Linked DNA regions of Homo sapiens. The protein of the gene in region 1 interacts with the protein of each later gene in a biochemical or structural test. Each region holds a gene or a part of one and is shown on either strand. Other genes may lie near its edges.

Region 1 (7,473 bases):
AGCAATATCTTCAAGGATTTGGGCCTAAACAATGGAAAGAATAGAACTGCAAAACTCAATTCTATCAGGAAGGAAGAGAAGGTTAAGGGAGAAGATCAGGTCAGTTCTGGACATGTTAAGTTTGTGGTACTTGTACTTGGAAGTACAAGTCTGGAGTTCCGGGAAGTGTATGATCTTGAGAGTCATCAGCACAAAGGTGGTCTTCATAGATGGTATCTGAATCTGGTAGGGAGCCAGGAGACTGGATGAGATCACCTAGGGAGACAGAAAACTAGAAGAGGCCCAGGGAATAACCATGGACACTACAATGGTAAGAGGTTGGAGAGATGAAGAGTAACCAACAGGGAGGCAGAGAGGGAGGGGCCTGGGGCAACGAGGGGCTCCATATCTCCCGAACCATATATTTACAAATAATCTCCAAGAGTGGATTACTCTTGCTTATTTCTTTTTTTTTTTTTTTTTTCTCACTCTGGTCTCACCTTGTCACCCTGGCTGGATTGCAGTGGCATGATTATGGCTCGTTGCAGCCTCAACCTCCTGGGCTCAAGTGATCCTCCCACGTCAGCCTCCCAAGTAGCTGGGGCAACAGGTGTGCATCACCACGGCCTGCTAATTTTTGTATTTTTTCATAGGGATGGGGTTTCCCTATGTTGCCCAGGCTGATCTTGAACTCCTGGGATCAAGTGATTCTCCCACCTTGGCCTCCCAAAGTGCTGGGAGTACAGGCATGAGCCACCGCTGCACCTGGCACTCTTGCTTATCTCTATGGCTACAGTGGCCTATTGCCTTCTTTGTGTTTGGACACATTATCAGGGCCAACCTCGGAGTTCACCTTTTAAGGTCACAAGTCCCTATGACTGAAGTGTGAATGACTGACAGGTTTATCCTTCTCAGGGGGTATACAATGAAAGAAAATCCCTTTAATAAAATGAATCTCTATTTGATGAAATACTGTAGGAAAAAGGGTCATTTCCCAGAGGGAACTATCTGTATCCCTGGCATGCTGCAGTTCACTGTAGTGATGATGGTACCACCCTGGTCAGTATCAACCCTTGGGAAACCATTGGGAAGGAGAAACAAGCTCTTGGGGGAGCATCAATACTGCTTTGGGCTGTAAGGTCTTAGAGGCCAGGAAAAGTATCTGGGACCCAAGCATAGCTCATAATGCCTGAGCAGGTGCACACTGCCTTACCTTAAGCAGGATAAAGCAAGAAGTGGGCAGGCAGCTTCCTGACACTGTCTTTAAACTCAGCTTCTGCCCACCACACTTCTGGTTCCCTTCCACCTAACCACTTCTCTGTCTCCGTTGCAATTTCTCCTTTTTCTCAAGCTCCAGCCTAGTGCCCCAGCCTCCCTTTCCACAAATGGTGTTAGATTGTCAACATTGCAGAAATGGTGAGTTCAGTTCTTTCCACCAAGGTCTTCGCGGTTCCATGAGAAACCTGTTGTCTCTTCCCATTTTCCTTTCACTACTCACCAGCACCAAATCCCCAGTCAGCAAACCAGAGAGTACAAAAGCAGGGACTTTTACACTAGGGTTCCTCTTCCCCATACCCACAATTGCCTCCTCGACTAAGGAAGGTGATGGGAAAATGACAATGACACCAATAGGACAATGGGACAAAAGCATGGACAGGAAACTCACAAAAGCATGGACAGGAAACACGAATAGCCATTAAACAGTTAAAAAGAATGTTGACATTTAACAACAAATGTGCAGTTTAAAGGAGCAATAAGAGACCATTTCATCTATCAAAGTGGCGAGGATTCTAATGTGGAGGGTTGGCGAGAGTAAGGACACAGGCAGACACTACTAACTGGAGTAGAAAGGCCTCACTGCTTTCTGGAGAATGGCTTGGCAACACATAGAGACCAAGAGCTTTAAAACAAGTCTATGTCTTCACCCTTTCACTCAGGGGTTTCACTTCTAGAATTTAGCCTAAGGCAATAATTAGCCATGCAAATATGTAAGTTCAAGGATATTTACCGAAGGTCTGGGCGCGGTGGCTCACACCTATAATCCTAGCACTTTGGGAGGCCGAAAGAGGTGGTCAGATTACCTGAGGTCAGGAGTTCGAGACCAGCCTGGATAACATGATGAAACCCCGTCTCTACTAAAAATACAAAAATCAGCCAGGCATGTGCCTGTAATCCCAGCTACTCAGGAGGCTGAGGCAGGAGTAGCTTGAACCCAGGAAGCAGAGGTTGCCGTGAACCGAGATCACACAACTGCACTCCATCCTGGACAACAGAGTGAGACTCCATCTCAAAAAAAAAAAAAAAGAAGAAGAAAAAGAAAAAAAAGAATATTTACCACAGCTCAGTTTATTATATGTTTAAAAATTGAAGGCCAGGTGTGGTGGTACACACCTGTAATCCCAGAGCTTTGGGAGGCCGAGGAAGGAGGTTGCCGTGAGCCCAGGAATTCAAGGTTATAGTGAGCTATGTGCGTGCCACTGCACTCCAGCCTGAGTGACAGAGCAAGACCCTGTCTCTAAAAAAACAGAAAGCAAATTGAGACCCACCTAAACATGCTATAATAGGAAATTGGTTTAAATGAACTAGTAGAATACTGGGTGACCATTATAAATGATGCTGGCTCACGGGCTTCCTAATGTGATACACTGGTACTCGTGCCCAAAAATGCATAAACACCAGACATACTCAAATTTAGGAACAGTCTACAAAACAACTGTCCTGTATGCTTAAAAATGCCAGTATCGGCCAGGTGCGGTGGCTCACGCCTGTAATCCCAGCACTTTGGGAGGCCAAGATGGGTGGATTGCCTAAGCTCAGGAGTTTGAGACCAGCCTGGGCACCATGGTGAAACCCTGTCTCTACTAAAATACAAAAAGTCAGCCAGGCGTGGTGGTGGGCGCCTGTAATCCCAGCTACTCAGGAGGCTGAGGCACGAGAATTGCTTGAACCCAGGCGGTGGAGGTTGCAGTGAGCCAAGGTCGTGCCACTGCAATCCAGCCTGGACTGTCTCAAAAAAAAAAAAAAAAAAGTCAATATAATGAAAGGCAAAGTACATTTAAGGTACTGTACTCATATTAAAGGAAACTAAAAAGACTCGACAGCTAAATGCAATGCAGGATGCCAAATGAGATCCTAGACCAAAGGAAAAAATTGTCATGAAGGACATTATGGGGCAATTGGCAGGACCTGAATTTGGACTGTCAATTAGATCATAGTATTACATCGGTCTAAGTTTCCTGATTTGGATAATTGTACTATATTATGTAAAAGAATGTTTTGTTCTTAGAAAATTTGCACTGATGGATTTAAGGGTAAAGGGTATCTTGTATGCAACTTACTCTCAAATGGTTCAGAAAAAAATACAAATGTGTATTTATAGAGAAATAATGATAAAGTAAATGTGGTCAAATGATATTAGTGGATGAATCTGAGTGAAGGGTATCCTGGAATTCTTTTTAGTATTTTTGCCCCTTTCCCATGAGATTAAAAGTATTTTAAAATAAAAAGCTAAAAAAAGGAAGAAAGTGGTGCTGGTGAAGTATATTCCCCGGTAGGGGAAGGCTCTCAGGTGCACCAGCAGCAGCCATGAGTGCCTCAACACCAGGGAGAGCACAGCTGCCACTGACACCTTCTGCCACCCTGGACTCTCAGTTCCCTGTGCTACTAAAGGAACTCAGTGTGTGGTTGACCCCAAAGTTGTCCTGGGTTGACTCAAGAAGGTAGGATGAGCATTCTGAGGCAAAGAATTCTCTTTTGTGATTTTATTGACTCCAATTTTGCATTCTGACTGGCATTCCCTGCATCCCAAGGACCTTGACAGCGGAGGGAGGCAGAGATGGAGGAAGTGAAAACTACCCAAATTCAGTGTTTGTTACAGACAATTCAGACTGCAAAATTTAGGGTAGACTATGTTCATTTATCACTGATAATGACAGTCTTAACATTCCCCTACAACAGGAAGACCAAGATTTCCCCAAAACCGGCCAGCATCTTGCCCATTTGCCAGAAGGAGAAAAATAAGTCCTGGCAAGAGCCAAGATAAGGCCCAGAAGCCCCTGGGTTCCTTTAGCCAAGGTGAGTGGTTTCAAATTATGACAAGTTGCAGGTTCTCTGAGAAGCATCTGTAATAACCTGGCAAATTAAGCATCCTCTCCTGGGAGGAGGAATACAGAACTCTGTAACCACCCAATACCTGTTTCCAGGTCCTGCCCCTCCTGGGGCACAGGGCAGCCACCTTGCAATTCTCATCCCTAGAAAGGAGAGACCAGATCAACAAACAGCAGGGCTGGGACTGCCCAGGGGGTTCCGAGATTCCTTCTCCCCTCCTATCACCTGCCCTCCAGGCACACCGTCCTACTTCCCCCTACTTCCCCAGGGGTTGTCAGGGACAGAAGGCCCCTCCTTCATCCCCCCTAGTGTTCCTCCACTCTTCCTCCGCCCCCCATTACTAGGGTGTCCAGGACATTGTGTGACTCAGGAAACAGCTCAGACGTGAGGCTTGCAGCAGGCCGAGGAGGAAGAAGAGGGGCAGTGGGAGCAGAGGAGGTGGCTCCTGCCCCAGTGAGAGCTCTGAGGGTCCCTGCCTGAAGAGGGACAGGGACCGGGGCTTGGAGAAGGGGCTGTGGAATGCAGCCCCCTTCACTGCTGCTGCTGCTGCTGCTGCTGCTGCTGCTATGTGTCTCAGTGGTCAGACCCAGAGGTGAGGCATGGCGTGGGTGAGGTGAGGGGACCCAGCTCCCTTAGGAGGATGATCAGTGGGGTGGGGGAAGAGGGCCAAGCCCCAGGCCGTGTGAGGGATGCTGGATGGAGGAGATTCTCACTGCCCAAATAGAGACGGCCTCCAGGGAAAGACGGCTCTGCCCATGGAGCTGCTTCGGGCCTGGTGCCAGGGGTGGTGACTGCTGGGGGATGGGTGAGAGGGTGCCCACCTCCAGGAAGAACCTCGTCAGCACTGGCACTGGAGGACTCTTGCAGCCATAGGGAAGAGGGGAAGAGGGAACACACTGACCACCTGCTTGGGGAGGAGATGAGAGGGAAGCAGGAGATGGGGACATGAAAGGTCAGGCCTACTAAGCCCTTTCTTAGTCCAGCTGTCCCCACCCCCCGGATGGCTCAATGCTCGGCCTTTCCGGGAGGAAATCTCTTCGAAGTCTCAGCCATTCACCTCCCGGGAGCCACCTCCGCCCCTCTTCTGACCCCTGTTGTCTTGCTTCCGAGAGATGGAGTCCGAGGCTGGACTTGGGAGGCCAGAGAATAAACAGGAAAGGGGGGTAGGGATTAGTAACTGGGACGGAGGGCACTGGGGCTGGGGCTGGGTACCATGTGGAGAGTGGGGACAGATGTGAAGAAGAGGTGGTTTAGAGTACCTGTGGGAGCTGCTGTGGGCAGGTCTCTCAGGAGCACCTAGAAGAGGAAAGGTGGAGGCACAGCACCCAGGGCTTCCATTGCGCCTGCCTCTCCACCCTCAGGGCTGCTGTGTGGGAGTTTCCCAGAACCCTGTGCCAATGGAGGCACCTGCCTGAGCCTGTCTCTGGGACAAGGGACCTGCCAGTGAGTGTGCCTTGCAGGAGTGGGAGACTGGAGAGAAAGGGGGAGGGAGAGCAGGGGGGGAGAGGTGAGGAAGTGAGACCAAAGAAGAAAGAGAGGAAGTGAAGGAGATGAAGGGAAACAAATGAAGGCAGAGGAGGGAGTGGGCAAGAATAGGAAGAGGGACCAGTGATGTGAGTTTTCCTCTCCTCCCCTGCCCAGGTGTGCCCCTGGCTTCCTGGGTGAGACGTGCCAGTTTCCTGACCCCTGCCAGAACGCCCAGCTCTGCCAAAATGGAGGCAGCTGCCAAGCCCTGCTTCCCGCTCCCCTAGGGCTCCCCAGCTCTCCCTCTCCATTGACACCCAGCTTCTTGTGCACTTGCCTCCCTGGCTTCACTGGTGAGAGATGCCAGGCCAAGCTTGAAGACCCTTGTCCTCCCTCCTTCTGTTCCAAAAGGGGCCGCTGCCACATCCAGGCCTCGGGCCGCCCACAGTGCTCCTGCATGCCTGGATGGACAGGTAAGCGCTGCTGGGGGCAGCCAGGAGGGGACAGGCAGGAGCAATGGGCTAGGCTGTGGGTGGGGAAGATAGAACTGGAGCCTGAGAAACTGCAAGCCCTTTGAAGACAGAAGCCATGAGAATCAACATGCCAATTCTTGGCAATCCACTTACCCACAACCAACATTCACCAGCATGGTTGTACTGATTGCTAAAATGTTAAAATATTTCCAAATTAAGGGTGCCATGAGCCCCCTTTGTGCACCATCCTGATGCCTGTTCTAGCCCCTTTAATCTCCCCATTGCCTAGCAGCTAGAAGAGGGTCATTGCTCTGCATACCAGGGGTCCTCCAGACTTTTGCATTCTGAGCATCTGAATGGCTCCCATTCTGAGTGGAGGGAGCCATTATATCACCTGGGAAGACTGCAGTGGTGGGAGGGGCACCGGGAAGGGAAGGATGTGACCCAGAGAGTGGATTGGGGGCCGCCCCAGGAGGAGGGGTGTAACCCTGGGGCAAGCTTAGTGCTTCATTCTAGGGGCTCTGCACCAGCCCCTGGATCCAAATGCTAGCTCTGCCACTGATCAGCTACATGACCTCATATAAGATATTTTAGCTTTCTGGTGTTCAGTTGTCAGCTGACAAACAGGGAGAGTAATGGTCACACTTCATAAGGTTGCTGAGAGGACAGAAGGGGCCGATGCTCAGGAGATGCTTGCTCAGCTCAGCACCTGGCACCTCCACTGCTGCCGCCATTACCACTGGTGCACATGGACTGTGAAGTGAGTCTCCAGGTGCCTAAACCCACTTAAAGATTAGGAAATGAGGATCAGAAAGGCAAAGTGGCTCACCCAAGGGTATACAACCAGTTGTGGCACAGCATGGTGCCACCTGAGTCTCCTGCCTGCAGACGTGGGGTGCTTTTCACCTCCCCCAAGATCACCCACGTCCCAGATTTTCTCAGGCAAGGCCAATTTGCAATACTCTCATCATCACTTTAGAAGATATGGTCACTCCAGATAAACCCTCCCAAGCCATGACATCGCTCAGAGCAGGGGTGATGGAACAGAGCAAAGAAAGTATGGTAATAAAGGGAAGGAAATATGAAAATGAGACCCAGAGATAATCCAGAGTGAGCACTGGGTAACCTCAGATGGGCTAGAATTCGTACAATGCTAGAAACGGCTCCCTCTGTCCTCTGCCTCAGGTGAGCAGTGCCAGCTTCGGGACTTCTGTTCAGCCAACCCATGTGTTAATGGAGGGGTGTGTCTGGCCACATACCCCCAGATCCAGTGCCACTGCCCACCGGGCTTCGAGGGCCATGCCTGTGAACGTGATGTCAACGAGTGCTTCCAGGACCCAGGACCCTGCCCCAAAGGCACCTCCTGCCATAACACCCTGGGCTCCTTCCAGTGCCTCTGCCCTGTGGGGCAGGAGGGTCCACGTTGTGAGCTGCGGGCAGGACCCTGCCC
Region 2 (7,024 bases), on another chromosome or scaffold:
AAAGATAATAATGAGGGCTGTTACTTGGAACATTTTCTAATAACATGCTATAGATGCTTAGGGTTTATGGGAAGGGGGGATGGTACTGGGGGTGGGGGATAAAGGACAAAAACGTAATAAAGTAAACACAGGAAAGGAGCAGCATGTGTTTGGAAGCTGAGCATAGGCACTCCCTCTGAGCAGTGGAGTTGAGTCCTGACTGCAGCACATGCAGGTGAGGAAGCAGTAGAAGGAGTCCGTCTTCTGTCCCCTTCCCATCCCTTCTGACATGTTCTTATCTTGAAATCGCCGCCCCTGAACTCCCAGGGTACTTACTGTGTGCTGCTCTCACTCTGTAGCCCTGTCTGTGTATGTCCCATGTCCTGAAAGCCCACCCGAGGAGGAGCTGTCTTCTTTGTCTTTATGTTCCCCACAGCACTTGTCTCTGGCACAAGGCAGAATCTTAATAACTTCAGTGGCATGAATCCATCGAGGAGCAGATGGGAAGCAGAGTCACAGTGTCACACCAGACAGATTATGTTCAAGCAAATAGTCCCAATAAGAAGTAGTGAGGGGCCGGCCGGGCGCAGTGGCTCACACCTGTAATCCCAGCCCTTTGGGAGACTGAGGTGGGCAAATCACCTGAGGTCTGGAGTTCAAGACCAGTCTGACCAACATGGAGAAACCCCGTCTCTACTAAAAATACAAAATTAGCTGGGCATGGTGGCACATGCCTGTAATCCCAGCTACTCTGGAGGCTGAGGCAGGAGAATGGCTTGAACCCTGGAGGCGGAGGTTGCTGTGAGCCAAGATCACGCCATTGCACTCCAGCCTGGGCAACAAGAGCGAAACTCTGTCTCAAAAAAAAAAAAAGTGAGGGGCTGGGCACAGTGGCTCATGCCTGTAATCCCAGCACTTTGGGAGGCTGAGACGGGTGAATCACTTGAGGCCAGGAGTTTGTGACCAGCCTGGCCAACATGGTGAAACCCCGTCCCTACCAAAAAATACCGGAAGTTAGCCAGGCACAGTGGTGCACATCTGTAATCCCAGCTACTTGGGAGGTTGAGGCATGAGAATTGATTGAACTCAGGAGACGGAGGTTGCAGTTAGCTGAGATTGTGCCACCGCACTCCACCCAGCCTGGCGGCAGAGCAAGGCTCCATCTCAAAACATATATATATATATAATATATATATGTGTGTGTGTGTGTGTGTGTGTGTACTCTCTGGCATTTTTTTGTTGGCTCCATTCTTGGGCATACCGCCAGACGAGATGGCTGTGGGCAGCCTCATGCCTGTCTCCTGCAGAAAGAGGACTGCAGAAGCACTTTAGCTAGACATCAGTTCTGACTGGCCAGGTATAGGACCGTCAGGGAAAATGGAGGTGTGTCCCCAGAAATGGGAGTGTACACTATGCAAGCAGAACCCACTGGCGAGCATTGCAGGGACATCAGCCCTTGGCTTGTTACTGTCATAGCAGAGCAAATTCATATGTATCTTAAGTCATTCTTTTCAATGTTTTTCAGCATCTTCATGATACAGTTAAGAGGAATCTTGACAGCGCCACTTCCCCTCAGAATGGCGATCAACAGAATGGCTACGGGGACCTCTTTCCTGGGCATAAGAAGACTCGCCGGGAGGCCCCTCTGGGAGTTGCCATCTCTTCCAATGGACTGCCTCCAGCCTCCCCCCTCGGTCAGTCTGACAAGCCTTCTGGAGCCGACGCCCTGCAGTCCAGTGGGAAGCACTCTCTGGGGCTAGACTCTCTCAACAAAAAGCGTCTGGCTGACTCCAGCCTTCACTTGAATGGAGGCAGTAACCCCAGTGAGTCATTTCCTCTGAGCCTGAATAAAGAACTGAAGCAGGAGCCTGTCGAAGACCTGCCTTGCATGATCACTGGGACTGTCGGCTCCATATCGCAAAGCAACCTCATGCCAGACCTCAACCTTAACGAGCAGGAGTGGAAGGAGCTCATCGAGGAGCTGAACAGGTCGGTGCCCGATGAAGACATGAAGGACCTGTTTAATGAGGACTTCGAGGAGAAGAAGGACCCAGAGTCTTCTGGCTCTGCCACACAAACCCCCTTGGCACAGGACATTAATATTAAGACGGAATTCTCTCCAGCAGCCTTTGAGCAAGAACAGTTAGGCTCTCCACAAGTGAGGGCCGGGTCTGCAGGGCAGACCTTTCTGGGGCCTTCCTCTGCCCCTGTGAGTACAGATTCCCCCAGCCTAGGGGGCTCCCAAACCTTATTCCACACCTCTGGTCAGCCCCGGGCGGACAATCCCAGTCCAAACCTGATGCCGGCATCAGCCCAGGCCCAGAACGCACAAAGAGCCCTTGCAGGTGTGGTATTGCCCAGTCAGGGCCCAGGAGGGGCCTCAGAGCTGTCCTCTGCCCACCAGCTCCAGCAGATCGCTGCCAAGCAGAAGCGCGAGCAGATGCTCCAGAACCCACAGCAGGCCACCCCGGCACCAGCCCCGGGCCAGATGTCCACATGGCAGCAGACGGGGCCCTCCCACAGTTCCTTAGATGTCCCTTACCCCATGGAGAAGCCTGCCAGCCCTTCCAGCTACAAGCAAGACTTCACTAACTCCAAACTGCTCATGATGCCTAGTGTGAATAAGAGTTCCCCTCGGCCCGGAGGCCCCTACCTCCAGCCCAGCCATGTGAACCTGCTGAGTCACCAGCCACCGAGTAACTTGAATCAGAACTCCGCGAATAACCAGGGGTCTGTGCTGGACTACGGCAATACAAAACCCCTTTCTCATTACAAAGCGGACTGTGGGCAAGGCAGCCCGGGGTCTGGCCAGAGCAAGCCAGCCCTGATGGCTTATCTTCCCCAGCAGCTGTCCCATATAAGTCACGAGCAGAACTCCCTGTTTCTGATGAAGCCAAAGCCAGGAAATATGCCTTTCCGATCACTGGTTCCACCTGGCCAGGTAAGTATGAGCCTTTGCTTTCTGTTCCTCTGCTGCAGACACTTCAGTGAGGTTACTCACTACTTTGGATGTTAATTGGATCCGAGGTAGTTGTGGGAAGAGGGAGGAGGGAATAGCTGCTGTCATCCTTGCTCCTCTTGGGAGTGGAAATTTATAAAATAAACCAGGGTTGATTGTTAATAAAAAATAGGGTAAAGTTCCCTGGCATAGCTTGATTATTAACTGCACGAAGGTTTCAGGAATCACCTGCATTTAGTCCACTGTCTCTTTCGTGCCGTAGGATTTAAATTAAGTAATTTGCGACTGTGTTTTGCAGATAAACATTACGTTTCACGTGCTTCTTAGAGGCTTGGCTTTTTTTTTTTTTTTTTTTTTTTACTACCTTTCAGATCTCCATGTACAAAATTCCCTAATTTTTGGTAAGCTTATAACATTGTAGGCATGTGCTGCTTCCCAGCACAGCTCAGCTCTGTGCTTACTTCATCATGGTTCTAAAGCCCGGTAGCATCAAATGGAAAATGGCCCTTCGGGTTGTTTCCTGTTTTCCGCTAGTGCAGATAAGCCTGCAGTGAACGTGAATTTGTAATACATGCTAAAATTTTGCAAATTAAAAAGCCCAGTGCCGGTAATATCATGAGGAAATAGACACACTCCTGTATTGATGAGAGTGTGTAAATGAGCTCACTGCTTTTGGGAAGTCATTTGACATTATGTATTTTTCACATGCTGTAAAATGTTCATATGCATTGACACACTATATACCCGACAAGTTGATCTAAAGAAATAATCCAAAATAAAAGAAAAAGTTATATCCAAGATATTCATTGTGTGGTTATTTCTAATAGCCAAAAACTGTAAGCCATTTAAGCATCTCCCAGTGCTGATAATTCCACTTACTTCAGCCAGTAAGATGTCTCACGCCGTTCAGCACCCCCTGAAGAGAGGCTCAGCTGCACACAGTGAGGGTGCTTGCCATCTGGGTAGCACTTTGCAACTTACGAAGCACTCTCAGTAGTTCTTAAGCTTCTGGTGATTAGAGTGAAGAAATTATACCAGAATCTTAGAATGAATAACTAGAAAGGAGCTCAACAATTTGAACTGGTTTAAATAATGATTGCTTTTTGCCTATCTTCTGCTAAGTTCCCCTTTTCTTCTAAGTGTCAGTAATGACGGGATAATATTGTGGTGGCCTTTGACATGACTCTCACTTGTGGTCTATATATTGACAGAGAATATCTGTTAAAGTTCTCATTGATTCTCAGTATTTTTTGAGGATGGGTATTTGACAAAAGCTAAGCAGTCTCTTCCAGTAAAATGCTTGCGCAGATGTACAGTTTCGGGTCGTTCAGGGATAGCCCGAAATCCAAGGTTTATGCACATGGGACAGAGTGGTCTCCATTGACCAAAGCCCCCTTCAAAGTGTTCTTCCCCTAGGCCGGGTGCAGTGGCTCATGCCTGTAATCCCAGCACTTTGAGAGGCCGAGGTGGGTGGAGCACCTGAGGTCGGGAGTTCGAGACCAGCGTGACCAACATGGAGAAACCCCCATCTCTACTAAAAATACAAAATTAGCCAGGTGTGGTGGCACATGCCTCTAATCCCAGCTACTCAGGAGGCTGAGGCAGGGGAATCGCTTGAATTCGGGAGGCAGAGGTTGCGGTGAGCCAAGATCGTGCCATTGCACTCCAGCCTGGGCAACAAGAGCGAAACTCCGTCTGAAAAAAAACAAAAAGTATTCTTCCCCTATTGGCCCGCTCTGCACTCAGATGTCCTGATAAGTGAGCATTTCTAAGCCTCGATTGCTTACTGGAACTATTGTGTGCAAATATGAAAGCTTACATATGCTTAACGTAAAACCATACCTTTGTCACTGGTGAATCACTGGGAGTAAAACTAACACCTATGGAGTAATTGTTCGTTGCTAGGCGCCTGTATGCTCAGATGTCATCACTTTTGGTCTGTGCTCCAGCCCTGTGGGATGGTTGTTATTCGAGGTCAGAAGGGAAGCAGAGACTTGGCTTCAAGAGAGTGAACCTTGAATTCACTGGATGGAGCTTATTTGGTCTGATCAGAGCTTAGAGACTTCACAGTCCCCTATCTGTGTTGACAGGAGCAGAACCCTTCCAGTGTCCCTGTGCAAGCCCAGGCTACCAGTGTTGGGACCCAGCCGCCTGCCGTGTCCGTGGCCAGCTCCCACAACAGCTCCCCCTATCTCAGCAGCCAGCAACAGGCCGCTGTAATGAAGCAGCATCAGTTGCTTTTGGACCAACAGAAACAAAGGGAGCAGCAGCAAAAGCATTTACAGCAACAGCAGTTCCTTCAGAGGCAACAGCACCTTCTCGCGGAACAGGTAAAAAGAAAAGTGGAAGGAAACCACCGCTTCCCACCTTTGCCTGCACCCTGCGTCACTGCTACAGTCACACCTTCTGCTTGTGCGTGTGGATTTGCGCAGACTTGCGTGCCTGTTGTTAGAGTGCTTTGCCTTTTAAAAACATCTTTCCAGGAATGTGGCATTTCTCAGACAGGGGTAGTCTTGTCAGAAGCTGCTTCGTGTCACTTAGTGGAGAGTACTCAAGGCAGACTCGGGGGCTAAAACTGTTTGTGGAAGGGACATTTTCCTATGTTTCAGGTCAGCAGCTTCCAAGCCACTGAGCTCACGTGTCTGTCATTCCACTATGGAGTCAGCTTTGCTGCCACTACAGAGCCTGTTATAAGCCAGAACGTGAAGAGGGAAGTGAAGTCATCCCTGAGGGAAACACAGTTCACTCGCTTGGTTAGCAAGTGTAGTGTGCAGGCACTAAGGGTTACAAGTGAGAGTTCTTTTTTTTTTTTGGAGACAGAGTCTTGCTGTCACCCAGGCTGGACTGCAGTGGTGCGATCTTGGCTCACTGCAGCCTCCACCTCATGGGTTCATGCAATTCTCCTGCCTCAGCCTCCCGAGTAGCTGGGACTACAGGCAAGAACCACCATGCCTGGCTAATTTTTGTGTTTTTAGTAGAGATGGGGTTTCACCACGTTGGCCAGGCTGGTCTTGAGCTCCTGACCTCAAGTGATCCACTCATCTCGGCCTCCCAAAGTGCTGAGATTACAGGCGTGAGCCACCACGCCTGGCCTTAAATTACATCTTTAAGACATAAGAACTGGCTCCAGACAGTGAGGTTCATTGAGGACAATCCCTGCCTCAGTTCTGCCTTTAAGAAAAGCAGCTTTATTGTGATGTAACTCACACAGCATACACTTCACCCACGTAAGTGAACAATTTAGTCATTTTTAGTATATCACAGAGTTGTGCAACCATTACCACAATCCATTTTAGAACATTTTCATTACCCTAAAACAAATCCCATACCCATGAGCAGCCATTCTCCCATCCACCCTGCCTCTCCAGCTCCTGATCTACTTTCTGTCTCTATAATTGTCTGCTCTGGGCTGGGCGCAGTGGCTCACTCCTATAATCCCAGCACTTTGGGAGGCCGAGGTGGGCGGATCACGAGGTCAGGAGATCAAGACCATCCTGGCTAACACAGTGAAACCCCGTCTCTACTAAAAATACAAAAAATTAGCCAAGTGTGGTGACGGGCGCCTGTAGTCCCAGCTACTCGGGAGGCCGAGGCAGGAGAATGGCGTGAACCTGGGAGGGGAGCTTGCAGTGAGCAGAGATCGCGCCACTGCACTCCAGCCTGGGCGACAGAGCAAGACTCCATCTCAAAAAAAAAAAATTGTCTGTTCTGGACATTTTATATTTATGTTATGTCATTTTCAATCATGTGCTAGGTAACAGCAATTGATTCCTCTTGATAATAATATTCCATTGTATGGACATGTTACATTTTATTCATTCGTCTGTTCATGAACATTTGGGTTTCTTGTTTGGGCTGTTAATGAGTATTGCTGCTATGAACATTCATGTACAAGTTTTCATATAGACATCTGTTTTCATTTTTCTTGGGTAGATACCTGGGAGTGGAATTGCTGGATCACATGGTAATTTTTATGTTTAACCTTTGGAGGAACTGTCAGACTGTTTCCCACAGGCTGTCTCATTTTACATTCCCACCAGCGGTGTATGAGGGTGCTGATTTCTCTACATCCTCACCAACCACTTG

What was found. Proteins that work in one complex are often made in the same cells at the same time.
Region 2: the proteins of NOTCH4 (region 1) and MAML1 form a complex in vitro, tested with the Homo sapiens proteins (one study listed by BioGRID).

What each region holds. Positions count from the first base shown.
Region 1 is NC_000006.12:32,221,061-32,228,533, reverse strand, and holds the start of NOTCH4 (neurogenic locus notch homolog protein 4 preproprotein), read left to right. Parts: upstream 1-4,466; 5' UTR 4,467-4,605; coding exon 4,606-4,678; intron 4,679-5,447; coding exon 5,448-5,529; intron 5,530-5,727; coding exon 5,728-6,023; intron 6,024-7,208; coding exon 7,209-7,473. UniProt on the Homo sapiens protein: Functions as a receptor for membrane-bound ligands Jagged1, Jagged2 and Delta1 to regulate cell-fate determination.
Region 2 is NC_000005.10:179,763,822-179,770,845, forward strand, and holds part of MAML1 (mastermind-like protein 1), read left to right. Parts: intron 1-1,504; coding exon 1,505-2,920; intron 2,921-5,028; coding exon 5,029-5,268; intron 5,269-7,024. UniProt on the Homo sapiens protein: Acts as a transcriptional coactivator for NOTCH proteins. Has been shown to amplify NOTCH-induced transcription of HES1. Enhances phosphorylation and proteolytic turnover of the NOTCH intracellular domain in the nucleus through interaction with CDK8.